4 separate regions of the Homo sapiens genome follow, and regions 1, 2 and 4 are each reported to be linked to region 3. Evidence: microRNA targets listed by miRTarBase, many of them from high-throughput screens and not tested one by one. Region 3 holds a microRNA gene; each other region holds the end of a gene's coding sequence.
The links. Region 3 holds the annotated microRNA hsa-miR-6845-5p (CGGGGCCAGAGCAGAGAGC, at 4,055-4,073, shown strand). A microRNA usually pairs through its seed, bases 2 to 8, with sites in the 3' UTR of a target mRNA and lowers its output. Matches are read on the target gene's strand: a 7mer-m8 pairs with bases 2 to 8, a 7mer-A1 pairs with bases 2 to 7 and ends in A, and an 8mer does both.

Region 1 (7,153 bases), not on the chromosome of region 3:
CTCCCGGGTTTAAGCGATTCTCCTGCCTCAGCCTCCCGAGGAGCTGGGACTACAGGTGCATGCCACCACGTCTGGCTGATTTTCTTTTTTTTGAGACAGAGTCTTCGCTCTGTCACCCAGGCTGGAGTGCAGTGGCACAATCTCGGCTCACTGCAAGATCTGCCTCCAGGGTTCAAGCCATTCTCCTGCCTCAGCCTCCCAAATAGCTGGGACTACAGGCTCCTGCCACCATGCCCGGCTAATTTTTTTGTATTTTTTAGTAGAGACAGAGTTTCACCATGTTAGCCAGGGTAGTCTTGATCTCCTGACCTCGTGATCCGCCCGCCTCGTCCTCCCAAAGTGCTAGTATTACAGGTGTGAACCACTGCGCGCAGCCTAATTTTCGTATTTTTAGTAGAGACAGCGTTTCACCATGTTAGCCAGGATGGTCTTGATCTCCTGACCTCATGAACCACCCACCTTGGCCTCCCAAATTACTGGGATTACGGGTGTGAGCCACCGCACCTGGCCTAAACAACTTTTTTTTTCTTGTTCCCTTTGTCTGTGTCTCTAAATAAATAATGTTACATTACAGTTTTTTTTGTTGTTTTTTTTTTTGAGTCGGAGTCTCGCTCTGTTGCCAAGGCTGGAGTGCAGTGGCACGATCTCAGCTCACTGCAACCTCCACCTCCCAGGTTCAAGTGATTCTCCTGCCTCAGCCTCCTGAGTAGCTGGGATTACAGGTGCCCACCACCATGCCCAGCTAATTTTTGTATTTTTAGTAGAGATGGGGTTTCACCATTTTGGTCAGGCTGATCTCGAACTCCTGACCTTGTGATCCTCCCGCCTCAGCCTCCCAAAGTGCTGGGATTACGGGTGTGAGCCACCGCACCCAGGCTCTTTTTTTTTTTTTTTTTGAGAAGGAGTCTTGCTTTGTCACCCAGTCTGGAATGCAGTGGAGTGATCTCGGCTCACTGCAACCTCCCATCTCCCAGGTTCAAGCGATTCTCCTGCCTCGGCCTCCTGAGTAGCTGGGATTAGAGGAGCCTGCCACCATGCCCAGCTAATTTTTGTATATTTAGTAGAGACGGCATTTCACCATGTTGGCCAGGCTGGTCTCGAACTCCTAACCTGTGATCTGCCCGCCTTGGCCTCCCAAAGTGTTGGGTAAGCCACCGTCCCCAGCCTCCTTAGAGTTTTCTACTTTGCTTATTTCCTTAATGTCTGAGCACAAATATTTTTTCATGTTGTTAAAGTTTTTGTCATTTTCATCTTTATGATATGTAACATTTCGGATTGGCTAGTATATTGTTGTCCTTATCAACTTTATGATTTTGTGATGGATAGTTTGCTTTGTAGTTTTCTTTTTTTCTTTCTTTTTTTTTTTGAGACGGAGTTTCACTCTTTTCTCCCAGGCTGGAGCACAGTGGCGCGATCTCAGCTTACTGCAGCCTCCGCCTCCTGGGTTCAAGCGATTCTCCTGCCTCAGCCTCCCGAGTAGCTGGGATTACAGACAGCTGCCACCATGCCCAGCTAATTTTTGTATTTTTAGTAGAGACGAGCTTTCATCACATTGTCCAGGCTGGTCTCGAACTCCTGACCTCAGATGATCCACCCGCCTCGGCCTCCCAAAGTGCTGGGATTACAGGTGTGAGCCACCGCGCCTGGCCTGTAGTTGTTTCATAATATTCAATTATGGTGTGGAATTTATCCTATGTTTACCCATTATATATTTTTTAAAAAGAAGAGAAGCCTATTTGACCGTATTTTTCCTTTTCACATTTTTTTCCTTTGAAATTCTTTAGGACACATATTGAAGGAAATGTGGATATTGGAGATTTGACCTGGGAGCAGAAGGAAAAAGTATTGCGATTGCTCTTTGCAAAAATGAATGGCTGTCCTTCTAGGTAACTCCCTATTTCTGCAGTGAAATACCAAGTTGTTATCAAATCTAGAAACCACTTAGGAACAAAGAACTTATTTTTCTTACTTAGAACTAAAGGGACGGGAAAGGACCAGAAAATATAAAAAGGCCCTACTGCTTAACTACTGCAGCTCCCAGAGATAAAGAATGGGAGATTAATGAATGAGCATGAAAATGAAAGATGAGTTGGAATTAAAGGGGGAGGGGAAAGATTCATCTTAGATGTTTAAGGTAGTGCTTATTAAGAAGTTACAATATTGCTCAGCTGAATGAGTGGCAACTGAAGAGAAACATAACAATATTAAGATTTTATTGGTTTGCAAAGATAAGTATTTTTTTTTTTTTTTGAGATGGGGTCTCACTCTGTCACCCAGGCCAGAGTGCAGTGGCACAATCACAGCTCACTATAACCTCCACTTCCCAGGTGCAAGTGATCCTCCCACCTCAGCCTACTGAGTAGCTGGGACTACAGGCATGTGCCACAACGCCCGGCTAATTTTTTTTTTTTTTTTTTTTGAGAAGGAGTCTCATTCTGTTGCCCAGGCTGGAGTGCAGTGATGTAATCTCGGCTCACTGCAACCTCTGCCTCCTGGTTCAAGTGATTCTCGTGCTTCAGCCTCCCGAGTAGCTAGGATTACAGGGGCCACCACCATGCCTGGCTAATTTTTGTATTTTTTTGTAGAGATGGAGTTTTACCATGTTATCCAGGCTGGTCTCGAACTCCTGACCTGAGGTGACCTGCCCGCCTCAGCCTCCTAAAGTGCTGAGATTACAGGCATGAGCCACTGTGCCCGGCCCTAATTTTGTATTTTTAGTAAAGACAGGGTTTCACCATGTTGGCCAGGCTGGTCACAAACTCCTGACCTCAGATGATCCACTCACCTCGGCTTCCCAAAGTGCTGGGATTACAGGCATGAGCCACTGCCCCTGGCCAGTTATACATTTTAAAATAACTAAAAGAGTGTAATTGGATTGTAACACAAGGGATAAATACTTGAAGGGATGGATACTTCATTCTCTATGATGTGATTATTTCACATTGCATGCCTGTATCAAAACATCTCACGTACCCCACAAATACGTATACCTACTATCACCCACAAAAATAAAAAATAAAAAAAAATTAAAATACAAAAAGAAAATATGAAGGCATGAGGAGACACTGCCTCATTCATTATCTTTGTTGACTTTTACCCACTACAGGAAATACAACCAGAGTTCTAGGCCTCCAGTTCCAGACTATGTTGTTTCTGACAGTGGGGAAACAAAGGAATTTGGGTAAGAGCTCTCTTGCTTAAGTAATAAACATGAGCCCAACACGATGGTTCTTGTGGGCATCTTGAATGTGCTAATTGAAAGTAATATGACAAGTCTGTTATTCTAAACCAGGTTTCATGTGTGTAGAGTTGTTGACGGTTCTGTTATTTTGTCATTATTGCAGGGATGAAAGTAAGCTTCAAGATAAAATCTTCATCACCCAGCAAATTGCAATATCAGACTCTTCTGGTGAAGTGGTGCTACCCACTATTCCAAAAGAACCTCAGGAGTCTGACACAGTAAGGAGTCTGTATCTAATCAAACAATGTATATTGTTGTCACCCTTCCCCATGTCGCTTCTTGCTAAATCACGGTTATTTTCTCTACTAGTTGAGAGACTTCAGGGATCAGTGGAATGAGTAATAAATAGCATTAGTAGATTACATAAATTTTTAAAGCAATATCCGTACAAATGCATATTATACTAATGCAAATGCAAATGTGTGCCTCTTTTTGTGTAGAAACCTATAGGTTGCCTTTTGAAGTAAACAGCCTAGCCAAAATGTGTACTATCTTTTACGTAAGAGTAAACATAGTGACCTTGTGACTCTTAGCTTTCCATCACAGGTGGGAAGTCAGAGTCATTACAACCTAGAGGACAAAGGCTTATAAGGAGATATGAAATGATTTTTTTAAGCCAAGTTTTTCTCTTTAAGAGTTTTTAATTTATAATTTGTTATTCATAATTAGTACAATGTAGAATCTGAGAAATTTCAAATGAAGCCACATTAGAACAAAAAGAAAATACTGACTTTTTAGCCGCGATCACATGAATATAACTGATGAGTTTTTTTCATCTAAGAAATAAGAAACTCTGAGCAGCAAATAGTTGGCCAGATGAGTTGTTTCTAATTAGAGCATCACAGTTCTGATTAGTGTGTTTTTTTAGAAGTGATTTCCCTTAAATATAAGGAAAATGTTAGGAATCTCTGTGACTACATTTAATTCCACTTGGAATATAGACAATAATGACCTTTTATTTAACCCAGCCTATAGTTGTTGGATTGGATTAAATATCACTACCAGGGCCAGGTGCGGTGGTTCACGCCTGTAATCCCAGCACTTTGGGAGGCCGAGGTGGGCGGATCATTAGGTCAGGAGATTGAGACCATCCTGGCTAACATGGTGAAACCCTGTCTCTACTAAAAGTACAAAAAATTATCCGGGTGTGGGGGCATGCACCTGTAATCCCAGCTACTCGGGAGACTGAGGCAGGAGAATTACTTGAACCCAGGAGGTGGAGGTTGCAGTGAGCCGAGATCGTGCCACTGCACTCCACCCTGGGCAACAGAGCGAGACTCCATCTCAAAACAAAACAAAACAACAACAAAAAAAATCACTACCAGTTGCCAGCTGTGATAAGAGCTAAAACAAGGGGTACTGTAGTCTCAAATTATAAATTTCTATTGCCTCATATTTAGGAAAGCAGAAAAAAAAAAAAAAAAGGCCCAGTAGGATCATAAGTGTATTTTACAAAAGTTCCAGTCACCTTAAGTGATTGAAGGTTTTGACATTTTATCCAGCCAGGTGGTAGTAATAAGCCTCAAATCCACAGGGTACACAACATTTTCAAGGTCTTTTTTTTTTTTATCATACTTAATTCATGAATAACCCCCATAGTGTAGGTTAGTTAGCACTATCAAAGTGACTGGTAAGGACGCAGGAAAATAAAAAGAGGATTCAATTGGATTGGTACTGCAAAAAGAATCCATTCTGTTCAGCACATGAATTTCTGTTCTGACCTTAAGTTTAGATATATCAAAGAAACAAAAAGCATAGAGGCGGCTGGGGGTGGTGGCTCACACCTGTAATCCCAGCACTTTGGGAGGCCAAGGCAGGCAGATCACCTGAGGTCGGGAGTTCGAGACCAGCCTGACCAACATGGAGAAACCCTGTCTCTACTAAAAATACAAAATTAGCCAGGCATGGTGGCGTATGCCTGAAATCCCAGCTACTCAGGAGGCTGAGGCAGGAGAATTGCTTGAACCCGGGAGGCAGAGGTTGCAGTGAGCCAAGATCACGCCATTGCACTCTAGCCTGGGCAACAAGAGTGAAACTCCATCTCAAAAAAAAAAAAAAAAAAAAAAGCGTAAAGGCAGTTGAACTAATGGCAGAAGAAGACTGTCAAAGCATTTTTTTTTAACCACTTTATGTCATGGAAAGCTTCGAAATTTCTTAGGCCCAGTTAATTGCTCTACATGAAGAGTTCTTCATTAAACAAATCACTAATTAGAAATACAGGCAAGAGAAAAGAATATATAAAATTTGGCAAGTAATAGCAGGTTAGATTTGCTTAAGGCAGGTGTCTTACCCATTTTCATGGTTGGAACAATCCTTGATTTCTGGGCCTAAAATAACTTTTGAAATAATTTTCTAAGAAAATTATTTGCATCTGGCTGGGTGTGGTGGCTCATGCCTGTAATCCCAGCACTTTGGGAGGCCGAGGCAGGCGGATCACCTGAGGTCAGGAGTTCGAGACCAGCCTGACCAACACGGAGAAACCCCGTCTCTACTAAAAATACAAAATTAGCTGGGTGTGGTGGCGCATGCCTGTAATCCCAGCTACTAGGGGGGCTGAGGCAGGAGAATCGCTTGAACCTGGGAGGCGGAGGTTGCGGTGAGCTGAGATCACGCCATTGCACTCCAGCCTGGGCAACAAGAGTGAAACTCCATCTCAAAAAAAAGAAAAAAGAAAATTATTTGCATCTGAATTAATGGCTGAAGTATTAATTAATGATTGCTGAAGAGAACCCTGAAACTTAGTACTTGGCACATATAACAAAAAGTTGATTTATCCATTGCTTACTGAGGTATCCTTGAGAAGTGATCTTAAGCAGGAGCAGTGACAATGATAGAATTAATAGTGGTCATGAATTACTAGGAAACAAAGTGGCATTGAGCAGAAAAGAAAGAAGCTGTTGCCACAACTTTGGGATATATAAAAATGGATTATATCTTGTGTATTGTGGGATAAAAGAGGGGCTAAAGAAAACTTTGCAGGAGGTCTCTCCCAGTGGCATTTAGGTAGCGCTATGTTTGAGGATCAACCAAAAGCGGTGAGTTATTTCTGTCCTGTTTCCCCATCTAAGAGTTCTTCTTGCAATTATTGGAACATCTTCTTTAAAAAATTTTTTTTCCCTTTTCTTTTTTTACTTTTTCAATTTTTTTAAATAATAGATACGGGGTTTCGCCACGTTCTTCAACTCCTGGGCTCAAGCAATCTGCCCACTGTGGCCTCCCAAAATGATGGAATTACAGGCGTGAGCCACCGCGCCTGGCTGGAACATTTTCTTTACATACACTGGCTTTTCTCCCCTTCAAATCATCAGAAAATGGGATAATTTTTAGAAATCAGGTTTAAGCACTACTTTCAGATAAGCATTTCATAGTTACAACAGTTACCTCAAAATAGAAGTATGAAGAGCAAGTGAGAAATCTGGTTTCATTGTTACACTAGGCAGTTCCCTATAGAAACTTTGCGGGGGTTAATAGTCCTGAGGAAGATTTTAGTTACAATGTATTCCAATCCCATCGATCTGATCTGAGCAAAGCTGACAAATGAAGCTGGTCAAAAATAAAGGGAGATTACTCAGGATGGAGTCAGTCTTAAACAAACTTGTTTCTAACGGCCCATGGTAGGCATGACAACAGCAGGTGAGGAAAGAGTAGCATCTTCTTCTTTCCACTGAGAAGTAATGGTCTTTAACTGAGTGTAGAATTGGATGCCCTAAGGAAAACAGAAAAAAAGTTAGCATATATTTCTGGGGTTTCATGATTCTTCTTTTAATTAGCTTTTGAAGGAGGTATTATAAAGTGCTACTCACTTTCCTAATTGAGAAATGCAATCAGAATCCAATATATATTGTTCCTAAGATAATTGATCTAAAACATTTAACATAATACCTGGCAGATAGTAAACAATCAAACCTTAGC
Region 2 (5,124 bases), not on the chromosome of region 3:
GGGGAATGTGTAGACGGTGAGAAGACTTCCCAGCTCCTCTTCCTCCCTGATTGTTCTGCCTGCCAGGTGCTCACCATCGCGGCCACGGAACCGGTCACCCTCCTGCACTCCAAGCCCCCCAAGCCCACGCAGGCCCGTGGAAAGCCTTTGCTCCTGAGCGCCCCTGGAGGACAGGAAGACCCCGCCCCTGAAATACCTAGCTCTGCCCCTGCTGCACCTAGCTCCGCACCCAGGACTCCTGACCCTGCCCCTGAGAAACCTTCTGAGTCGTCGGCTGGTCCCTCCACTGAAGAAGACTTTGCTGTGGACTTTGAGAAGATCTACAAGTACTTGTCCTCTGTCTCCCGAAGTGGCCGCAGCCCCGAGCTCTCAGCAGCTGGTGAGAAGGGTGAGGGAGGGGGCAGGAGCAGAGGGATCAAGGGTCCCTGGCAGCAGGCAGGGGTGTCCCCTTACCCCTCTCCTCCATCCATCACTAGAGTCCGCTGTGGTCCTCGACCTGCTCATGTCACTTCCAGAGGAGCTGCCACTCCTGCCCTGCACAGCCCTGGTTGAGCATATGACGGAGACGTACCTACGCCTGACAGCCCCCCAGCCCATTCCCGCTGGAGGGAGCCTGGGGCCTGCAGCAGAAGGGGATGGGGCTGGCTCCAAGGCACCAGAGGAGACCCCCCCAGCCACCGAGAAGGCCGAGCACAGCGAACTGAAATCGCCTTGGCAAGCAGCTGGGATCTGTCCCCTGAACCCGTTCCTGGTGCCCCTGGAGCTTCTGGGTCGGGCAGCCACCCCTGCCAGGTGAGGGGCATGGCGGGCAGGAGGCCACACCAGGCCCCCCGCCCTGCCCCTCGGTTCTGCTCGGCTGGCCCTGGCTCTTTCTGAGGATCCCGTCATGGGGGAAGGTCCTTGAGATGATGCTCAGCTGTGGGGCGGGCCTCTAAGATGCCCCATACTTTGGGGGTCTCAGAAATGGAACCCCCGTTGTACAGGGGTTGGGTGGGGGTTGCAGGACTCCACTCACAAGCCTCCTGATGTCAAGGACAGGCGGACAGGGCTGGCCTCCCCCAGTCCCCAAGCCCCACTGTGCCTTGTTGTCTGCTGGGGGGCCATAGCTGGCACTGCCCACCGTAAAGGCCCTCGCACATTTTCCCCCTTCCTGTACACCTCGGGGCCAGCATCCTCACCTTCTTCAACTGACCAGTCGTGGTTACTCCCTGCTGCCAGGTCCTTCCCCTTCCCGGGGGTATTCTGTGACCATGAATAAAGTTATCATTCTCTTTCTCTTTCACCTGTGACTTAAAGATGGAAGTGGGGGCCCTGAAGTGTCAGAGCTTGGGGGTCACAGGGCTGGGGGTGTGTGCCAGGGAGGAGAGCTGCCACCTGACTGGTGTGATGAGGCCTGGGGTGAGGAGCCCCTTGGTGACTGTGAAGCTGACAAGTGTGGATGGGGAGAGCCGGCAGGGCACCTTGGGGACAGGCGTCAGGGATGGGTTTCAGAGTAGGGCAAAATCACATCGCACAGGTGGAGGGGAGAAGGCAGCAGAGAGTGGGGGTGACCCGGTGGAAGGAGTTGAGCCCCAGGCTGGGCGGTTAGAGGAAGATAGATAGGGGTGGGCTGCCCCGAGTGGCAGGAGGCTAGTGGGAGTGGAGTGTCCCCTGGGGTGGCTTTGGGACCTCAAGGATCCCTAGAAGGCGGGGAGGGAGGGGTACTGGAGTCAGGGCTGACCCCAAACCCCTGGGGGTGCTGGGACCCCGCTTGAGGCCCCCTCCATCAGCTTCACCTGCCCTGTGGGTGTGGACCGAGGGTCGGGTCCTAGAGAGGGAAGCAGATGTCCTCCCACGGCACCGCGTCCCACGCCCAGCTAGTAATCCAAGTCGGTAAATTCTCCGTTCTCGGAGCCTGTGCATTCACCCAGCCTGCCTTTTATAGAAACGCTCATTCCTCCCCCCACACACTGCACACGGCTCCCCTGGGGTGCACATCTCTTGGGAGGGCCTTGGAGCACAGCCAGCCCACTCCGTCCGTGGTCACCGCCCCACCGCACCAGACCCACAAACGCTGCCAATGGTGGTGGGCAGGGGGAGGAGGCTTAGGCTGCAGGTACGGTCGGTCGTCGGAGCCTCCCTCCAGGGCTGGCAGAGGGTGCGCCTCCCAGTTCCCCACAGGGCTGAGTCTCTCTCACCACCCCCGGCGCCTCCCCAGATCAACAGAATTGTGTGTGGAGGGGAGGCAGCTGGGGGTTACACATCAGCCCCCCCCCCCAAAGCCGGTGAAAGGTGCTTGTGATCTTGGTGTCTTTGCAGCCCTGGGAAGCTTTAAAAACATGCAAAAGCCAGACCTGGGTTCCACTTCCAGCCCTACCAGACTCTAGCCATGTGACTGTGGGCAAGTCAGTCACTGGAGCTGCCTGGCCCTCGGTCTCCTGGCCTGTAGAATAGGGATGCTAACAGGGCCTGGCTCATTCTCACGATCCCGAAGAGGAGACAGGCTATAAACAGGAGGTGCCAACTCAGCACGCTACTTGGCATGCAGTAAGCGCTCAATAATAGCTTTTATTATCATGTTCGGCTCAGAGGCAGGGAGGAGTGGAACGGCATGGGAGGGCTGCGGGAGGCACGGCAGGGGGGTCAGGGGCAAGTGGCAGGAGGGCGGATGGGGGGCAGCGGTGGGCACCGGGGCAGGGCGCGCTGACCTGTCCTGGGGCCCGGGTTGGGGGCAGAAATGAGCCTGCCCACGCTGTCCCGCCACGGCAGGCGCCACGCATCCTCGACACAGCCGCCATGGCAGGCCTTCGGGCTCCGTCTCCGGGACAGGCGGTGCAGGGCAAATTGGTATGCAGCGTCCGCCCCGTGGGCCCGGGAGAGCCTGCCCCGCAGGGACCAGAGCCCAAGGACGGGCTCAACACTCAGTCAAGGTGGGGTTGACGACGGCCAGACAACAGGGGAGGGAGGAGGGACAAGGGGGTCCCCACTTCCAGGGACGCACAATAGCAGAGCCACTTACACGCTGGGGAGGGGGCGGTGCGGGGGTCCTCCTCCCGCCCGGGATTCAGAGTCGGGGGTGGGGGCCAGCCGGGCGGGTGAGATGCGCAGAGAGGAAGGGACAGGGCGGATAAAGGCACGAGGTGGGGCTCCGGCCAGGCCAGGAAGGGACATGGGAGGGGTCTCGAGGGGGAGGGGCTGGGCTTCTCCCAACTCCCTCCCCCTCTCCCCCGGGCTGGGGGCTCCGGGGCGGGATCCTGAGCGCAGTCCTGGCCCCGCGGCGCCCCCCGCCGGGCCGGCCCTCTGAGACCCCGGCGCAGGGCCGGCTAGGGGGCGCCGCGCCCCTCACACCAACGCGTAGTCGAACTGCCCGCGCTCGAGCGCCTCCTTGTGGTCGGTCCAGGACGAGGCGGGCATGCGGCTGTAGGGGTCGAGCAGGATGCGCACGCAGCGCACCATCAACAGCACCAGCACCACGAGCAGGCAGAGCACGAAGGCGAACACCGTGCGCTGCTCCGCGTCCAGGCCCGCGCCCACCGGGGGCCCCGTCGACGGCGGCAGGGGCTCCGGCGACAGCGTCCACGTCGCGCTCATGGCTCACATCGCCGCGCGCCCTGCGGAGGAGGGGACCCGCCCCGGGCGCCGGGGATGAGGCTGCGCCCTCCCTCCCGCGCCTCCTCCGCTTCGCCCCCTCCTGCCGCCGCCGCCGCCGCCTCCCTTAACGTGCCCGACCCCATCCCCCGCCCGCGCCTCGGTCCCCGGGCTACGCCCATGCCCGGCCCGCCGGATCGCCGCCACCACCACGCGGGGACCCAACTCTGGCCGTGCGCGCAGGTGGGGGCGCTGAGAGCCGGGAAACGGAGCCGCGCCCGGCCTGGGCCGCACACAACAGGTGCGAAAGCGCGGCCGCGGCCCGGGCGCGCGGCGTGGGGACGGTCCCCGCGGCCCCTGCCCCCGCTCCCTTTGTTCTCGGCGGCCTGGGACCCCCTCCCCCACCGCCCCCGCCCCGGCGCGCCCCTCACCCTGGCTTCGACCCGGACGGGGACCGACCGCCCGGCGGCCGCGCTCTCTCAGGGACCCGCGCCGGCTGCGCGTTCGGCCTCTCCCCGGCGGCGGCGGCGGCGGCCCGGGCTCCGGCTCAGCCCACCCCACCCGCCCCTGGAGCGGCGGAGACCGAGGCAGGCAAGCAGCGCGCGAGCCGGGCCGCCGCGGCTGTTCCTATGGCGACGGGGGCGGGGCCGCCGCGGGGGGCGGGGCTGCAGGGGGCGGAGGCTGCGCAGGGAGCGGCGCGCGAGCCAGCGACCCCGCCCGGGCCTGCGGGAGGACGGAACCCCAGCCCCGAGGACCCGCGAGCACCCACGACCTCGCCGGGGAGTGGGCAGCTGCCACTCCCACCTCCCCTGGCACTTCGGGCCCCCCAGCCTGCCCTGTGCCTGCATTCTCCTCCGCGATAGACCCCACTCGAGACTCCCTGTTTGTGGGGGGACCTCAGTGGCCCTAAAACACTCATATGGGCACTCAAGCTCCCCCGGCCCTGGGGACCTCAATTCTCAGAGAGCTCAGGCAGGTCACTGGGATGAGTAAGTCCCCCTAGTTTTGTCTGTCACTGGCCTCGTCTTCCAACTCAGGGTCCAGCCCTGGGCAAGGCGTCCACCCACTGCGGCTGCAGTTCCTCACTCGACCTTGACCGCCTCCCACAGCAGCCGCCTGCTCCCACCCCCACCATCGCCTCGGCCACTCCCGCGCCAGAGAAGACACTTCAGACTCCGTAGCTGCTCTTCTGCAATTCGGTGTTTTATTCTTTCCAAATCTCAGGCTTATGCACAAGATGGAAGAGCACTGTTAAAATTAAAAAATGGACCTAAAGTGGCTTGGCTGACGTGGCTAGCGGGCCACTGAGCCGCGGGTCCCGGGTCCCACCCTGCTGTGGGGGGAGTCCCTGGGCCCTGGGGCCTCTTGGCACTGTGTGACCTGTGTGCACCCCAGGTGACCAGGCGCCGGGACCCCTGCAGGGCAGAGCAACAGGGCAGGGGTTGGCCCTGCGGGGGAGTGTCTCCAGCTGCCGCGCACCCGCAACAGCCCGTTGTCCCCTCCCGGGCCAGCTGGTCTTGCAGCCGTCCTGGCAGAGCTGGGGGCAGAGCCCGCAGT
Region 3 (7,655 bases):
GGTCGTGTGAGCCGGGTGGGCTCCCCCCTCATGGTTCCACTGTCCCATGGGAGCCAGCCGCGGAAAGGAAATGCGCGTTTGAGGAGAAAAGAGAAAATCGCCATCCTGGAAAGTGAGAAGATGGGCTTGTGGGCGGGAGGAGGCACTGGTGGGCGGGCCAGGGAGAGATTCGTGGTCACCGATCAAAGTCAGCCTGGGTCAGCCTGCTGGTGGGCCTTTCCCCCGCCCTCGGTGCCCCTTCGACCTGTCCCTTGGGGGTCGGCCGGGGAATGAGTGCGTGGCCAGGAGAGCGGGTCCCGCTTTCGAGCCCGCGGGGTCTTCTGCAGCTGGAGGGTGCCGTGGGCTTGGGGGCCCCCAGATGCCCCGGGTCTTCCCCCAGATCCTAGGGGAGCAACCGCGAGAGAAGTGGGCGCTCCGGGCTCCAGGTGTCCGCAGGGCGGGGCCTCCGAGGGGGCGGGGATTTGGGGGCGGTTCCTCTGCGCGGGGCGGGGCCTCATAGGGGCGGGGCTTCGAGGAGGTGAGGCGGGGCCTGGGGTGGGGCTTCGCGGAGGACCCTGGGAACGGGCGGGGGCGGGGACTAAAACGGGGCGGGGATTCGCGGGGGTGGGGCGGGTCCTGGGGCGGGGCTTCGCGAAGGAGGCTTGGAGGACGAGGAGGGGACAGGGCCTGGGGAGGGGCTTCGCGGAGCAGGCCTGGGAGACGAGGAGGAAACAGGGACTGGGGCGGGGCTTCGCGGGGCGGGGCCTCCGGGGGGGCGGGGCCTGGGCGCGGCCCGGGCTCGGCAGCTCTCGGGGAAGCTCTGCTCTGGCTCCGGCAGGCACAGGCGGCTCGGGAGGTGCGCGCCGGCTCCGCCCCCGGGCCCCGCCCGTCCGCCGCGCGCCCGCGCCTCCCAATTCCCAGAGCCGGGGCTGGGGCTCTAGGCTGCCGCGGCGGCTCTAGGCTGGGCTGCTGGGCGCGAGGCCAGGGCGGGCCGGGAGAGGCTGCGCCGGCGGCGGATCGCGCAGAGGGCGGTGGCCTGGGCTGGCCGAACCATGGCGGCCCCGGAGCCGGCGCCGAGGCGGGCCCGGGAACGGGAGCGGGAGCGGGAGGACGAGAGCGAGGACGAGAGCGACATCCTGGAGGAAAGCCCGTGTGGTCGCTGGCAAAAGCGACGGGAGCAGGTGGGCGCGGGGGTTGGGGCACGGGGTGACACCGCCCTCCCAGAGCGGGAGGGGCCTGGAGGCTGCGCGGGGCGTGGGGGCGCTGGGAGAGCGCGGCGGCTGGAAACCTCTCCGCGGCCCCTCGCGGCCCGCGAATCAGCCACCCCTGGACCCCTTTGGCCTGGCGCTCGCCCTGGGACTCCCTGAGGGCCAGTCTCCTCCCAGGACCACCTCCCCATGCCTCTGGACTCAGCCGCTAGCTTCCTGGGGATCCCCCTCGACCCCCTGAAACCTGCTCCAAATCCCCTTAGCCCAGCCCTTGGATAGGAGCCCTTGGCTCCTGGGGGCAGCTACCCTCCAAGCCCCACCTTCCCGCAGAGTGGCTCAGGGCCTGCAGCCCACGCTTGGGCCCACTGGAAAGGTGTGGACAGGGACCAAATCCTCACCCACAACCCTGACACACACCAGGGCACACATAACCCTTTATTCACCCCCAGGTAAACCAAGGGAACATGCCAGGGCTTCAGAGCACCTTCCTAGCCATGGACACGGAGGAGGGGGTAGAGGTGGTGTGGAACGAGCTCCACTTCGGAGACAGGAAGGCCTTCGCGGCGCACGAGGTGAGACCGCTGCCCCCTCCTCATCCTGCTTGGGTGACCACCTGCTGACCACCCAGCGACCACCCTCCCTCCCCAGGAGAAGATCCAGACCGTGTTCGAGCAGCTGGTGCTGGTGGACCACCCGAACATCGTGAAGTTGCACAAGTACTGGCTGGATACCTCTGAGGCCTGCGCGAGGGTGAGCACGGGCAAGGCCCCGGGCAGGCAGAGACCACAGCTAGGTGGGGCGGGCATGGGGACGAACCCGCAGCTGGTGGAAATCCTGAGCTCGCACCGTGCAGGTCATCTTCATCACAGAGTACGTGTCATCAGGCAGCCTCAAGCAATTCCTCAAAAAGACCAAGAAGAACCACAAGGCCATGAACGCCCGGGTATGGGGAGCGGGCTGGGGCAGCCACGGGGACAGGACGGGGTTGGGGCAGCCTCGGGGACTGGGATGGTGAGGGGGTGCCCGGCGGCCTCGGACAGGGGCTGGGCGAGGATGCGGGGCGGGCTCCGCAGGCCCAGCCGCCTCTCCTGCGCCCACCCGACCGACGGAGTCGTGCGTCCGCCGCCAGGCCTGGAAGCGCTGGTGCACGCAGATCCTGTCTGCGCTCAGGTGAGGGCCTGGGCTGGCCTGGGCGCGGCGCCACCGAGCCCCCATCTCTCCAGAGCCTCCTGACCGGCTCCTCCTACTCTCCCCTCCCCAACGTCTGCAGCTTCCTGCACGCCTGCAGCCCCCCAATCATCCACGGGAACCTGACCAGCGACACCATCTTCATTCAGCACAACGGCCTCATCAAGATCGGCTCCGGTGCTGGCGGGGCAGGGCTGGGTGGGGGAACGGGGCAGGGGAAGGTGCCTGGAGCCAAGGGCAGAGGAGTTCTGATGCCCCAGCAGCTAACTCCACTCTTTCTCCCGCCCCTTGGCAGTGTGGCACCGAATCTTCTCCAATGGTAAGTGCGGACTTTGGGGGGACGGGGTCCTGGAGAGGTCCCCGCCCGCTCAGCTCTGCGCCCTCCCACAGCACTTCCAGATGATCTCCGAAGCCCCATCCGCGCTGAGCGAGAGGAACTTCGGAACCTGCACTTCTTCCCCCCAGAGTATGGAGGTGAGTGGTGCTGGGTCCGGGTGCCCCGTGCCTACCCTGCGCTTCTCTCCTACGTGTCCTGTGCTCTCTTCTGTTCAGAGGTGGCCGATGGGACCGCTGTGGACATCTTCTCCTTTGGGATGTGTGCGCTGGAGGTACTGCCCCCGCCCTCCACCTTGTGCTCTGCCCTCCTCCTAACTGTGCCCTGCCTGGCTCACCTGTGTGGTCCCTTCCCCATGCCTGACCTGGCTCTGTGCCCCAGATGGCTGTACTGGAAATCCAGACCAATGGGGACACCCGGGTCACAGAGGAGGCCATTGCTCGCGCCAGGCACTCGCTGAGTGACCCCAACATGCGGGTAAGCAGCTTGCCCTGCCCCTCCCCAGCTGGCTCACCGTGCTCAGCTAGGGCTAGCAAGGTGCTCCAGGCAGACCTGGGAGAACATCACAGTTTGTGCAGTTGAGGGGTATACCAGCTGACTGCACCCCTCCCAAAGAGGACCTCAGTGGGAGCACATACTGGTTCCAGGCCTGAAGGCCCTAAGGGGTCAGCACATTCTAAGGACAAGAAGGCAAGAGAGACCCTCCCTCTGTGGCTGCCATCACCATGCCCGTTTTATAAAGAAACCAAGGTTCAGAGGAGATGAGTCCTTTGCCCAAGGCTTTAGAGTGAGTGGTGGAGCCAACATCTGCACCTGGGTCTGCTTCACTCCAAGTCCTTGACTTTAAGCTTCCAGGAGGTGATGAGGCTCCAGCTTGTGGGGGGACATGGTGGGTGCCAAGCAGGCAAAAAGAGGTATGGGATGGAAGCTGCATCCACAGCCCCCTCTGCTCGGAGTCTAGACTTAACTCCATGGCCTCAGGAGATGGGGGTGCCTGGTCGGGGCTGGTGGCGAGCTGGAGCCGGGCTGGGCACGGATGTGGACAGAGTGGGGACCCATCAAGGTCGTCTCCAGTGTTGGGCCCGAGCTGAGCCGATCAAAAGGCCATGGGTAGGAGGCTTGCAGGTGTGACTTTAGGATCATGGCTTCTCCCCACGATTTTTTGGGGGTCGAGGGAAGCAGAGCATGGTGCTCCAATCCCAGAACCCAGCTGTCCTCAAGCTCAGAGGACCAGGTCCTGGCCTGGCTGCTGCTGCTGGGACTCCTCCCTATGGGCATCCCTGCATGTCCTGTGTGTCCCTGAGGAGGGACATGGGGAACTCAGGGGCCACCTCTCCTCGAACTGCGGGGCCAGAGCAGAGAGCCCTTGCACACCACCAGCCTCTCCTCCCTGTGCCCCAGGAGTTCATCCTTTGCTGCCTGGCCCGGGACCCTGCCCGCCGGCCCTCTGCCCACAGCCTCCTCTTCCACCGCGTGCTCTTCGAGGTGCACTCGCTGAAGCTCCTGGCAGCCCACTGCTTCATCCAGCACCAGTGTGAGCAGCAGGCCGGCCCGGGGGGTGGCTGGGGAGGTGGAGGTTGGGACGTGGAAGGGGCCCTGCAGGACCCACGGCCTGAGCACACCGCCTTGATGCTCTTGTGGCCGCAGACCTCATGCCTGAGAATGTGGTGGAGGAGAAGACCAAGGCCATGGACCTGCACGCGGTCTTGGCGGAGCTTCCCCGGCCCCGCAGGCCCCCGCTGCAGTGGCGGTGAGCAGTCAGCACCCAGAAGCCTCCCCTCCCCACACCTCCCCTCCCCGCACCTCCCCTCCCCTCGCCCCGGCCAGCCCCTCATGTGCCTCCCACTTCCATGCCAGGTACTCGGAAGTCTCCTTCATGGAGCTGGACAAATTCCTGGAGGATGTCAGGTGAGAACTGATGTAAGGTTGGGGGCCAGGCAGCTGTCAGGCCTGAACCCCCAGCCACCCTGTTGTGTCCCCAGGAATGGAATCTACCCACTGATGAACTTTGCAGCCACTCGACCCCTGGGGCTGCCCCGTGTGCTGGCCCCACCCCCGGAGGAGGTCCAAAAGGCCAAGACCCCGACGCCAGAGCCCTTTGACTCTGAGACCAGAAAGGTGAGTCCCCTCTCCTGCTGCTCAGTGCCATCCCTCAGACCTTCTAACAGCCAGATAAGAGGTGCCCCTCCTTCTCTTAGGGCCTGCATCCCCACAGCCCAGCTCTCCTCCTGGCTGCCAGAGACCAGATCCAGGCTGACCCCCTTGTGGGGGTCATGGGGGTTATAGGACAGGCTGGGCACTCTCCTTTTCCGGGAGGCTCCCTGTCCCCTCAGATCCTTCCCCTGCATCCTGCTGCCTGCCCTGAACCTACTCCAAGCATCCTTCCTCCAGAACTCACCCGGGCTCTTCCACCCTGCCAGCAATCTTCCCCCACCCCCGCACCCCTCCCACCCCCCCCACCCCTCCCATCCCCCACCTGGTGCTGATTCCCGGACATCTATGTCCTGGTGTCTCCCCAGACTTTTCCTGCAGCACCCCCTCCTGGCCAGGGGCCTCTCTCGGTGCAGTGCAGCCAGAATTCATGTCCTAACAGGCAAACTGCCTGCTCCTGGCTGCCAGCAGAGATCATGGGAGTCCTCAGCTGACACCCAGGCTCTGGGAGGCCTGATCCCGCAGGCACCGTGCACTTCGGCGCGGTCCTGTCCCGCCCAACCTCCCTTTCCCCACGCCCACAGTTCCCTCTTTGTTCAAGTTGTTCTCTCCGCGGTGAAAGCTCCTATTCAGCCTTCAGTACCCAGCCCCTAATGTCGACTCTTCTCGAAGCTTTCCTTAGCTTGCCAAGCCACTAGCAGTGAGATGGGCTCCTCTTAGAGATTCCCCCCTTTCCAGTCTTTGCTGTCCCTTCCCGGCCCCTTTGGGGCCGCGGCATGTGGTCTTGCTGCTGGGTTTGTGAGTCCCAGCCTTCCCCCGCTGCAGGTCATCCAGATGCAGTGCAACCTGGAGAGAAGCGAGGACAAGGCGCGCTGGCATGTGAGCGGGGCCTGGGAGGGCGGCGCTGCCGTGGGGAAGGCGGGAGCGTGGCGGAGCCCTGAACCCCCAGCCGACCACGCCCCGCCGCCTCCCCAGCTCACTCTGCTTCTGGTGCTGGAAGACCGGCTGCACCGGCAGCTGACCTACGACCTGCTCCCAAGTAGGCTGGGCAGGGGACTTGGGCGGCGGGCGGTGACCCCAGGCGGCGGGTGGGCAGCGGCCTCATGCCTCGCCTTACGCCATTGCCTCAGCGGACAGCGCCCAGGACCTCGCCTCGGAGCTCGTGCACTATGGCTTCCTCCACGAGGTGCGCTGGGCGGTGCGGCGCGGCCTGGCGGAGGGGGCGCACGGGGCAGGCCGCGCCCCTCCGTCCCCCATGCCTCCCTCCTTCCGCAGGACGACCGGATGAAGCTGGCCGCCTTCCTGGAGAGCACCTTCCTCAAGTACCGTGGGACCCAGGCCTGACCCGGAGCCCCAGCCCCAGGGGACCATGCCGGGGTGCTGCCTGGGCAGGCCATGTTGGGGAGACTCCAGCACCGTGGGGCTGCCCTCCTCCATGCGCCTGGGAGCACAAAGGCCCCGGTAGTGAAGGAACCCCCCGTCTCCTGAGAGTGGGGCTGACCCTGCCTTGGGCGCCGAGGGGTTGGGGGGTGGGTGTGGGGGAGCCGTTAGGCCTCCCAGGTCCTTAGGATCAGGGTTGCCCCCAGAACCCCTTCCCATATCCTCCATTCTCCGCCCTGAGTTCCTACCCAGGCTGCCTGGCCGGGGCCACTGCCTCCTCAGCATGCAGGAGGCTGCCCTGTAGGGAACCCCAGCTCTGGGGCTTGGGGGTGAGGGTCAGCCCTGGACAGACCTCTGCCCAGGGAACTGCTCCATGGGGTCTGGGAGAGCAGCCATCCCCTGCTGGCACCATAGACCCACACAAGGAGCCTGCACAGCAAGCCAGCGGTGACACACCTGCAGGTGTCAGGCATGGCACTGGGCACAACAGGGACCTGGCAGGAGAAACAGACCACAGAGAGGTCTGGAGTTGAGGCTGTTGTCAGCAAAGCCCCTGGTCCCACACAGCTCTGCCCTAGAGCCACCTCTTTGACCCTTTACCCACCCTGAGACCAGAACTTGCAGCCCCTCTGCAGATCTCCTCTGGCCACTGCAGCCCCTCCAATGGGCTTTTTCTCTCATGCATTCCCTGGCCTGGAGGCGTCAGGGACCCCACATCCTCCCTGCTCCTCAGACTCACAGCCCCTCCATGTTACCTCCCGCACCTCCTCCCTGGGGCAGCTGCTCCCTGGGCCTCTGAGGATGTCAGCTCCTGGCTCCCTGCCTCTCTCCCACTCCACTCCTGGCTCAGTCTTAGAGATTTCTATGCCCTCATGGATTCTACCCCTGCCTTCCTGGCCTCTTGATTCTTGGCTTGCCTCTCCTCCAATTCCAAACTTAGTGAAATGGCCTTAAGCATTTTAAACTGTATGTATACATTAGCGCATTCATGCCTTTCTAAACGCATTTCAAATGTCAACCAGGAAGGCACACCACTGTATTAGTTTTATACTGCCGCTGTAAAATTTACCACAAACTTAGTGACTTAACACAAATTTATTGCAATTCTGTAGGCTGGAAGTCTGACTATGGGTCTCACTGGACTAGAATCAAGGCTGGCAGGCTGCCTTCCTTCCTGGAGGTTCTAGGGGAGACTCTGTCTCCTGCTCCTTCAGGCTGCTGGCAGAATCCACATCCTTTCGGTGGCAGGGCCAAGGTCCCCACTTTCTTGCTGACTGTAAACTAAGGCCACTTCCAGCTTGTAGAGGCTGCCTACATTCCTTGGCTCTTGGCCCCCTCCTCCATCTTCAGAGCTAGCAGGTTCAGTCTGTGTCACGAACCATTTCTCTGGTTCCCTGCAGACAGGAAAGGTTGTC
Region 4 (7,655 bases), not on the chromosome of region 3:
TTTGTTGTTGTTTTTGTTTTTGTTTTTTGAGATGGAGTCTAGCTCTGTCGCCCAGACTGGAGTTCAGTGGCATGATCTTGGCTCCCTTTGTTTCATTTCATTTTCTAATTGTCTGATGGTACTTTGTATGAATATAGTCAATTTTTTATATTGACCTTATACCCAGCAATCTTGCTAAATAAATTTATTAATTGTAACAGTTTATAGATTATTTTCAGTTTTTAGGTATAAAACTGTCCAGAAATACAGTTTTATTTCTTTCTTTCAATTCTGTATACCTTTTATTTATGTTTCTTCCCTTATTCTACTAGCTAGAACTTCCAGCAGTGCTGACTAGAAGTGTGCCTTGTTCTTGACCTCAAAGGAGAACTTTCAACATTTTGCATCATGTTTATTATAGAGTTTTGTAGATCTCCTGTGTCAAAATTAGGAAGTTCCATTGTATTTCTAACTTTGCTGAGAAGTTTTATTAAAAATGGATGTTGGATGTGGATGCAGGTGGCTCACACCTGTAATCCCAGCACTTCGGGAGGCTGAGGTGGGAGAATCAGTTGAAGCCAGGAGTTCAAGACCAGCCTGGGCAACAAAGCAAGACACTGTCTCTACAAAAAACAAACAAAAAACCTAGCCAGGCATGGTGGTGCGTGCCTGTGATGATCCCAGCTACTTGGGAAGCTAAGGTGGGAGGATAGCTTTAGCCCAGGAGTTTGAGGCTGCAGTGAGCTATAATTGTACCAGTACACTCCACTGTAGGTGACAGAGTGAGACCCCATCTCTGGGGGGGTTGGAAAAAGAATGGATGTTGAAATTTGTCAAATGCAGCCGGGCGTGGTGGCTCACGCCTGTAATACCAGCACTTTGGGAGGCCGAGGTGGGTGGATCACGAGGTCAAGAGATCGAGACCATCCTGGCTAACACAGTGAAACCCCATCTCTACTAAAGAAATACAAAAAATTAGCCAGGCGTGGTGGCGGGCTCCTGTAATCCCAGCTACTCGGGAGGCTGAGGCAGGAGAATGGCATCAACCCGGGAGGCAGAGCTTGCAGTGAGTCAAGATCGCGCCACTGCACTCCAGCCTGGGTGACAGAGCGAGACTCCATCTCAAAAAAAAAAAAAAAAAGAAATTTGTCAAATGCCACTTCTGCATTTATTAAGATATTCATATGATCTTTCTGTTTTAATCTGTTACTGTAGAAAATTATATTGCTTTTACATATATTGTTTTTAAAGTTTGTTTTAAATAAAAGTCATCCAAGTGAGACTTATTTATGTACAGATGAGACTGTAGCAAGCCATTCCCTTCCATTGGGTCATCTTTTTTTTGCACTTCATTTTAGGCAGTTGAATTTGAATGACAATATAAGCAGGTGTTTATCATGACTGTGTGCCAGGCTCCTTCCTGAGCATGTTGTGTGTATTATCCCATAAATCATCTCAACTGACTCAGTGAGATAGCTACTGCTGTTCCTGTTTTTCAGATGAGAAAACTGATTCTGAGAGATTCTGAGTGATTTGCCCAGGTCACAGCTGGTAGGTAGCCACGCTAGGATTTATATCTGGTCTATTTGCAAAACATTTGCTCTGAAACCATACCAGTGCTTTTTACTCCATCCGCTCATCAGAATCACATGAGAAACAGTCTTATAATACTGTGCCCTAGACAGTAGCCAGACTAGTTCTCAGGGAATAGTTTACCATCCAAAATACATTTGTTAGAAAACAAGAAAGATGAAAAATAAATGAACCATCCAAGATAAGCCAGAGAAAAGCAGCAAAATAAACCCAATGAAAGTAGTGGAAGGTATAATTTAAAAAATATATATATAGAAGACAATAACTCCCATGAAACTGTAAGATTAACATCTCGTGTTTAAATTTTGTTTTTTCTGTTTTAGGCATAAAGGCATCACAAGTGGTCGGGCTCAGCTACTCTGGTTCCTACAGACTTTCTTCTTTGGGATAGCGTCTCTCACCATCTTGATTGCTTACAAACGGAAGCGCCAAAAACAAACTTGAAGTTGTCTGAAAGCTTGCTCTACACTTTTACATTCATCCTCACCCTTTTTTTTGTGGGGTAGAGGAGGTGCAGTAATTTACTCAGTGATCTTTCTACTTTCTAGAAACTGTCCTTCAAAGCTCTTTAAGACCCCCTCGTTAGTCAGTTTTTTCTCTTATATGCTCTGGTTGAGCTTGAATAGACCAGTTGTTACTTAAGAAAGAAACAGAGAAAGATTTTAGCTTTTCAATCCTATTTGGCAGAGGACTTCAGCTACCTTCTTACAGTCTTTGGCTGTGTTGGTACCCTCGTGTGCTCTGAGCTAAGCCACATACTAAACTGACTTTTTGGTTTGTATACCCTTGCTCCCGCCTTCTGATGAAAACACCTTACCCTCACAACCACCATCTTTCCTCTCCTTTCCAAAGCTCTTTCCACCTTGCTGCACTAAGATAAAGTGACACTTCCACTATATGTCAATTCCACACACATTTATTAGGTACCTGTGAGGTAGGATCCTATCCTCTCAAACTTCCATTTCTCATGCTACAGAGAAAGATAAGGAAGATGAGCAAGTGCCTGGAATGGGGCAGGCTGAGCAGTCACACAGGCATAGAGGCACGCTGAGAACCTGGAGGGGAGACTGCAGAGTGCCTTCCCTGATGCTGCAGCCGGAAGTGATCCTTCCCTCCACCTGGCCCCTGGGACACTGTGCTCTGCAGTGTGCAGGGCCTGATGGCACTGCTAGATTGCTCCTTCAGCTCAGGGCCACAGCTTAAACAGCTTTACCTTTCCCCTCAGCACCTGTCCCACTATCTTGCACACAGGTGCTCTAACCATGTTTATTGAACAAAGGAGGGAAACTGATTTCACTTTCACTTGTTCATTATCATTCCAATTTTTATGTGAAAATGGCACAACCCATTTGGGGTACCCTCACCCCAAAATAAAAGCCCAAGTCTACCTTTGACTGGTACCACCTTTTTTGTGGTTTCGTTGGTGAGAAACCTTTATCTTTTTCATACCTTTCTATTCTCAATCACTTCTCCAAAAGTGTGTCTTTCCAGCTCTGATTTATTCAAAACACAAGCATTTCTGTTTAGAGATTCTAGCCCATGGGTTATCTGGCTAGTTATTACCTCTCCTGTTCACTTAGTTATACTTTATTATTGCTCACAGGCTGGGGAGGCAGAATGACTCTGTCACCACTAGGAGCCATTAGGGCTTCTTCCCTGGAGGACTGCCTGCTTGCTTTCTGGGGACACTAGCCCTCATTTCCCTTCTGTGGTACAGTGGGGCAAATTATTTGTATTAAGCAAACATTTATGGGAAACAACCCGCTCCCGAAAACGGAGCCCCCAAGTAAAGCACAACCCTGAAAGATTATGAACTATGAATTGTCTCTGGTAGAGATAAATTTCTGCAAACATATCTCAGTCTTCCCTCTGTTTCTCTGGTGATTAAGAAGTTCCTTTTTGGTAAGGAAAAGGATTTTTAACCATAGAGTTAGGCATCATGGAAATTCAAACCAGATTTCTTAATACCTGGTCTTCCTCAAAGAGAAATAATAACAGTAATAGTGGTGCTGGGAACAATATGGCAGATTATTGAATGAAATTGATTAACTTGAATAAAATGCTGTGAATTTTCTCTAGCTGAATGCTTTTCTTGTATTTGTCAGTTTTAACATATTGATGCACATTTGATACTTTTTCTCAAATAGACTACTAGGGAACTGTTTATACACTTCAGATATCAGTTTGTTTTTCACTGATAAAGAAATGCAAAACACTGTGGTTGTCGGGTATATACGTACTATATTTTAGAACTGTCCATGTCCCACTTACCTCCTCCACATACAAGGAATCACTAGGGTGGACCTGAGTGTCTCCTTTTCATTGTAGGATTGTCTCCTTTTTGTTTCTGTTTTTATTCAACATTTGATAAAGTCTATGCACTAAGTAAGGAGTGTTCTGGCATTTTTTTAAATGCATGAAGTCCGGTATGCATCACTTAACAATGGGGATGCCTTCTGAGAAATGCACTATTAGGTGAGTGCATTGTTGTGCAGATATCATAGGGTGTACTCACAAACCAAATGGTAGAGCCGACTACACACCTAGTTTATATGATACAGTCTGTTGCCCCTAGGCTACAAACCTGTACAGCATGTAGAGTAGTACTGAATACTGAAGGTAACTGTAACACAGTGGTAAGCATTTGTGTACTAGCTTTTCTTTAGGATGGGATTAAAAATATATATATATATATATATATATATATATATATATATATATTTTGGGAGGCTGAGGCAGGCAGATCACCTGAGGTAAGGAGTTCAAGACCAGCCTGGCCAACATGGTGAAACCCCGTCTCTACTAAAAATACAAAAATTAGCCAGTCATGGTGGCAGGTGTCTGTAATCCTAGCTACTCAGGAGGCTGAGGCAGGAGGCAGGAGAATTGCTTGAACCCAGGAGGCAGAGGTTGTAGTGAGCTGCGATTGTAGCATTTCACTCCAGCCTGGGCAACAGAGTGAGACTCCGTCTCAAGCAAAACAAAAAAAATAGCTAAACATAGAAAAGATACTGTAAAAATGTGTTCCAATCCTATGGAACCAGTGTCATATGTGCTGTCTGTGATTGATCAAAACGTCAATATGCAGCCGGGTGTGGTGGCTCACACCTGTAATCCCAGCACTTTGGGAGGCCGAGGCGGGCAGATCATGAGGTCAGGAGATCGAGACTATCCTGGCTAACATGGTGAAACCCCGTCTCTACTAAAAATACAAAAAATTAGCCGGGCATGGTGGCAGGCGCCTGTAGTCCCAGCTACTCGGGAGGCTGAGGCAGGAGAATGGCATGAACCCGGGAAGCGGAGCTTGCAGTGAGCCAAGATCATGCCACTGCACTCCAGCCTGGGCAACAGTGCAAGACTCCAACTCAAAAAGGTCAATACACAGGCACGCCTGTATAAAATCCTATCATCTTATTTGGAGTATTATCATGGCTTAGATGTAAAGGGGGATCTAGTGAGCAAATGATGCAGATCATTCCTTTCATAGACCCATAAACATCTCAGCGAGGTGAAGTAACTTACCCAATATCACACAGAGATGCATGATTCTGGGCCTCATGTTGCCACCTCCCCCATCACCCCTGAGTTTAGTAGTAAGTCTGTGAAGCAAAAAATTTAAAAATGGAGACATCTTGGCTTTGTGTGGTAGTCATGGTGGTGATATGCGAGAAAGAGCTTTATGTTGCATTTGGATGAGAAAAGGCCAGAGGCATCTTGGTGGAAGCAACCATGGAAAAAAAACAGACTAAACTGTTTTCTTACCCACCCCTTAGATTTCCAAAGCACGTATAGTTTGGAAAAATAAAAAGAAAGGACCAAAAAAAAAAAAAAAAAAACTAATGACCTCAGAACTTAATAGCAGGCCCAATTTATAAACTAACCGTGTTTCCTACATTCAACATGTTTATGGTTCCATGCAGTCTAAGCATGGTTTATGAGCCATGGTGTTAACATAAACCTGGGTTAGGTTTAAGAGGTTATATTCCAGATGTGTGAAGAGGCTTCTTTGCAAAACAGCTTGCCATCTCAGAGAGCCCTTATATCTTTACACTGAAGGTCTACAAACAAACACAAAAGAGAAGTCAGAGAACCTGCAGTTGAGGTCAGAGAACACAGTGCAATCAAATTTTTATCTTGCTAGGGCCCTTTCTGGAGTCTCATTAATTAAAGCTCTTAGTTTAGCAACCTGGTTGTGAGTATTTTTCCTTTCTTGTCAGCACAGTGAAAAAAAATGCTAGTAGGGTAGGTGGGTAATACCCTTGTAAGACCATGGAAACGTTCTCTCTGCCAGGCTCCTTGTCCGCAACAAATTGTGAATTATGTTTCTGTTTTCATCCACACTGGACAATAAGAGTCTTTAATGTTCACATTTCTCTTCTTCAAAAGGAGATTTGTGCTCCGAATCCCCAGTAAACATTTGAAAACCCTATTCAAAATACTGTATTTGCAATTTCTGTGAAACATTTTAAGATGGCTTCCAAGTTTTTATAAAGGATTATAAAAATGCCTCATTTCTATTTGTAGTAAGTCATAATGTTGGATTAAGGGAAATACTTTTGGTATACAATGAATACTGTTCAGTTACATTGGTGTGGGAAATGGAAAAGTAATTTTTAAAAGTAAGAAAGACAAATGCTGTTGAGGAAAATATTCATGAAATAACTTTTACTTACCTTTTCCTTGTATTAATACATTGCACAGGATGAATCGCTACTAAAATTGATGAAATCTTAACATTGTTATAAATAAGAGGAATAGCATCTATAATATAAGGTAGGGAACAGTTCCCTAAATCTCAAGCACATAGAGGCCACCTCCACAACTTTAATCATGTCTACACTCCATCTGAATTTATTATTTATTATTTAAAGCAATTCACTTTTTTTTCTTTAGACTGAGTCTTGCTGTATTGTCCAGGCTGGAGTTGAGTGGCGTGATCTCGGCTCACTGCAATCTCCACCTCCCAGGTTCAAGCGATTCTCCTGCCTCAGCCTCCCAAGTAACTGGGATTACAGGTGCCCATCACCATACCCGGCTAATTTTTGTATTTTTAGTAGAGATGGGTTTTCACCATGTTGGCCAGGCTGGTCTCAAACTCCTGACCTCAAATGATCTGCCGGCCTCAGCCTCCCAAAGTGTTGGGTTTACAGGCATGAGCCACTGCACCTGGCCAGAAATTCACTTAAAAAAAAAAATTCCTAAACAAGAATAACTATGAAGTCCCAGGCTTGGTTTGTTCATTATATTTTTTCTAATACGTACGAGAAGAAAGGATAATTATTACCTAAAATACCATGCATACTAGGGATACATTTGACACACTTAAAAATCAGAAAGTATTACCCTACTAGTTGAGGCTGAAGCATGGGATTTAACCTGGCTCTAGCCACAGGATTTTAGACAAGTTTGTTTCTGTACCTCAGTTTCATCATTAAAAGAATTGATGTTTTAGACATGAAGCCTTTGCCCATGCCTATGTCCTGAATGGTATTGCCCAGGTTTTCTTCTAGGATTTTTATGGTCCTAGGTCTTACGTTTAAGTCTTTGATCCATCTTGAGTTGATTTTTGTATAAGGTGTAAGGAAGGGGTCCAGTTTCAGTTTTCTGCATATGGCTAGCCAGTTTTCCAACAACATTTATTAAACAGGGACTCTTTTCCCCATTGCTTGTTTGTGTCAGGTTTGTCAAAGATCAGATGGTTGTAGATGTGTGGTGTTATTTCTTGGGCCTCTGTTCTGTTCCATTGGTCTATATGTCTGTTTTGGTACCAGTACTATGCTGTTTTGGTTACTGTAGCCTTGTAGTAGAGTTTGAAGTCAGGTAGCATGATGCCTCCAGCTTTGCTATTCTTGCCCAGGATTCACTTGGCTATGCGGGTCTTTTTTGGTTCCATATGAAGTTTAAAGTAGTTTTTTCCAATTCTGTGAAGAAAGTCCGTGGTAGCTTGATGGGGACAGCATTGAATGTATAAATTACTTTGGGAAATATGGCCATTTTCGTGATATTGATTCTTCCTATCCATGAGCATGGAATTTTTTTTCCATTTGTTTGTGTCCTCTCTTATTTCCTTGAGCAGTGGTTTG

Region 1: miRTarBase lists ALDH6A1 as a target of hsa-miR-6845-5p. The part of its 3' UTR that is shown has no 7-base or 8-base seed match.
Region 2: miRTarBase lists CTXN1 as a target of hsa-miR-6845-5p. Seed matches in the 3' UTR shown: 7mer-m8 at 3,059-3,065 and 7mer-A1 at 2,694-2,700.
Region 4: miRTarBase lists TMEM254 as a target of hsa-miR-6845-5p. Seed matches in the 3' UTR shown: 7mer-m8 at 2,692-2,698.

The regions. Positions count from the first base shown.
Region 1 is chr14:74,053,800-74,060,952 of GRCh38, forward strand. ALDH6A1 (aldehyde dehydrogenase 6 family member A1) reads right to left here. Exons shown (of 12, transcript NM_005589.4): 12 at 3,048-6,947. The coding sequence ends at 6,843. It overlaps BBOF1 (basal body orientation factor 1), which reads left to right. Exons shown (of 12, transcript NM_025057.3): 9 at 1,785-1,886; 10 at 3,107-3,181; 11 at 3,345-3,459. Among named protein-coding and RNA genes, the nearest start is that of ALDH6A1, 27 kb to the right of the region's middle.
Region 2 is chr19:7,921,969-7,927,092 of GRCh38, forward strand. CTXN1 (cortexin 1) reads right to left here and starts at 4,167. Exons shown (of 2, transcript NM_206833.4): 1 at 3,999-4,167; 2 at 2,523-3,590. The coding sequence starts at 3,570. The coding sequence ends at 3,322. SNAPC2 (small nuclear RNA activating complex polypeptide 2) reads left to right here. Exons shown (of 5, transcript NM_003083.4): 4 at 67-379; 5 at 477-1,282. The coding sequence ends at 796. LOC124904629 (a long non-coding RNA gene) reads left to right here and starts at 3,437. Exons shown (of 2, transcript XR_007067120.1): 1 at 3,437-3,868; 2 at 4,605-4,842. TIMM44 (translocase of inner mitochondrial membrane 44) reads right to left here. Exons shown (of 13, transcript NM_006351.4): 13 at 4,750-5,124. RefSeq lists enhancers at 1-200, 4,848-5,124 and silencers at 3,462-3,551, 4,082-4,351.
Region 3 is chr8:143,834,211-143,841,865 of GRCh38, reverse strand. It overlaps MIR6845 (microRNA 6845), which reads left to right and starts at 4,050; the gene lies at 4,050-4,110. NRBP2 (nuclear receptor binding protein 2) reads left to right here and starts at 893. Exons shown (of 18, transcript NM_178564.4): 1 at 893-1,160; 2 at 1,637-1,759; 3 at 1,836-1,937; 4 at 2,041-2,130; 5 at 2,317-2,357; 6 at 2,458-2,552; 7 at 2,671-2,694; 8 at 2,766-2,849; 9 at 2,928-2,983; 10 at 3,091-3,186; 11 at 4,111-4,243; 12 at 4,357-4,459; 13 at 4,567-4,617; 14 at 4,692-4,827; 4 more. The coding sequence starts at 1,032. The coding sequence ends at 6,204. RefSeq lists enhancers at 1-275, 276-1,006, 4,318-5,045 and a silencer at 432-991.
Region 4 is chr10:80,088,902-80,096,556 of GRCh38, forward strand. It overlaps TMEM254 (transmembrane protein 254), which reads left to right. Exons shown (of 4, transcript NM_025125.4): 4 at 1,896-3,650. The coding sequence ends at 2,016. Among named protein-coding and RNA genes, the nearest start is that of TMEM254-AS1, 14 kb to the left of the region's middle.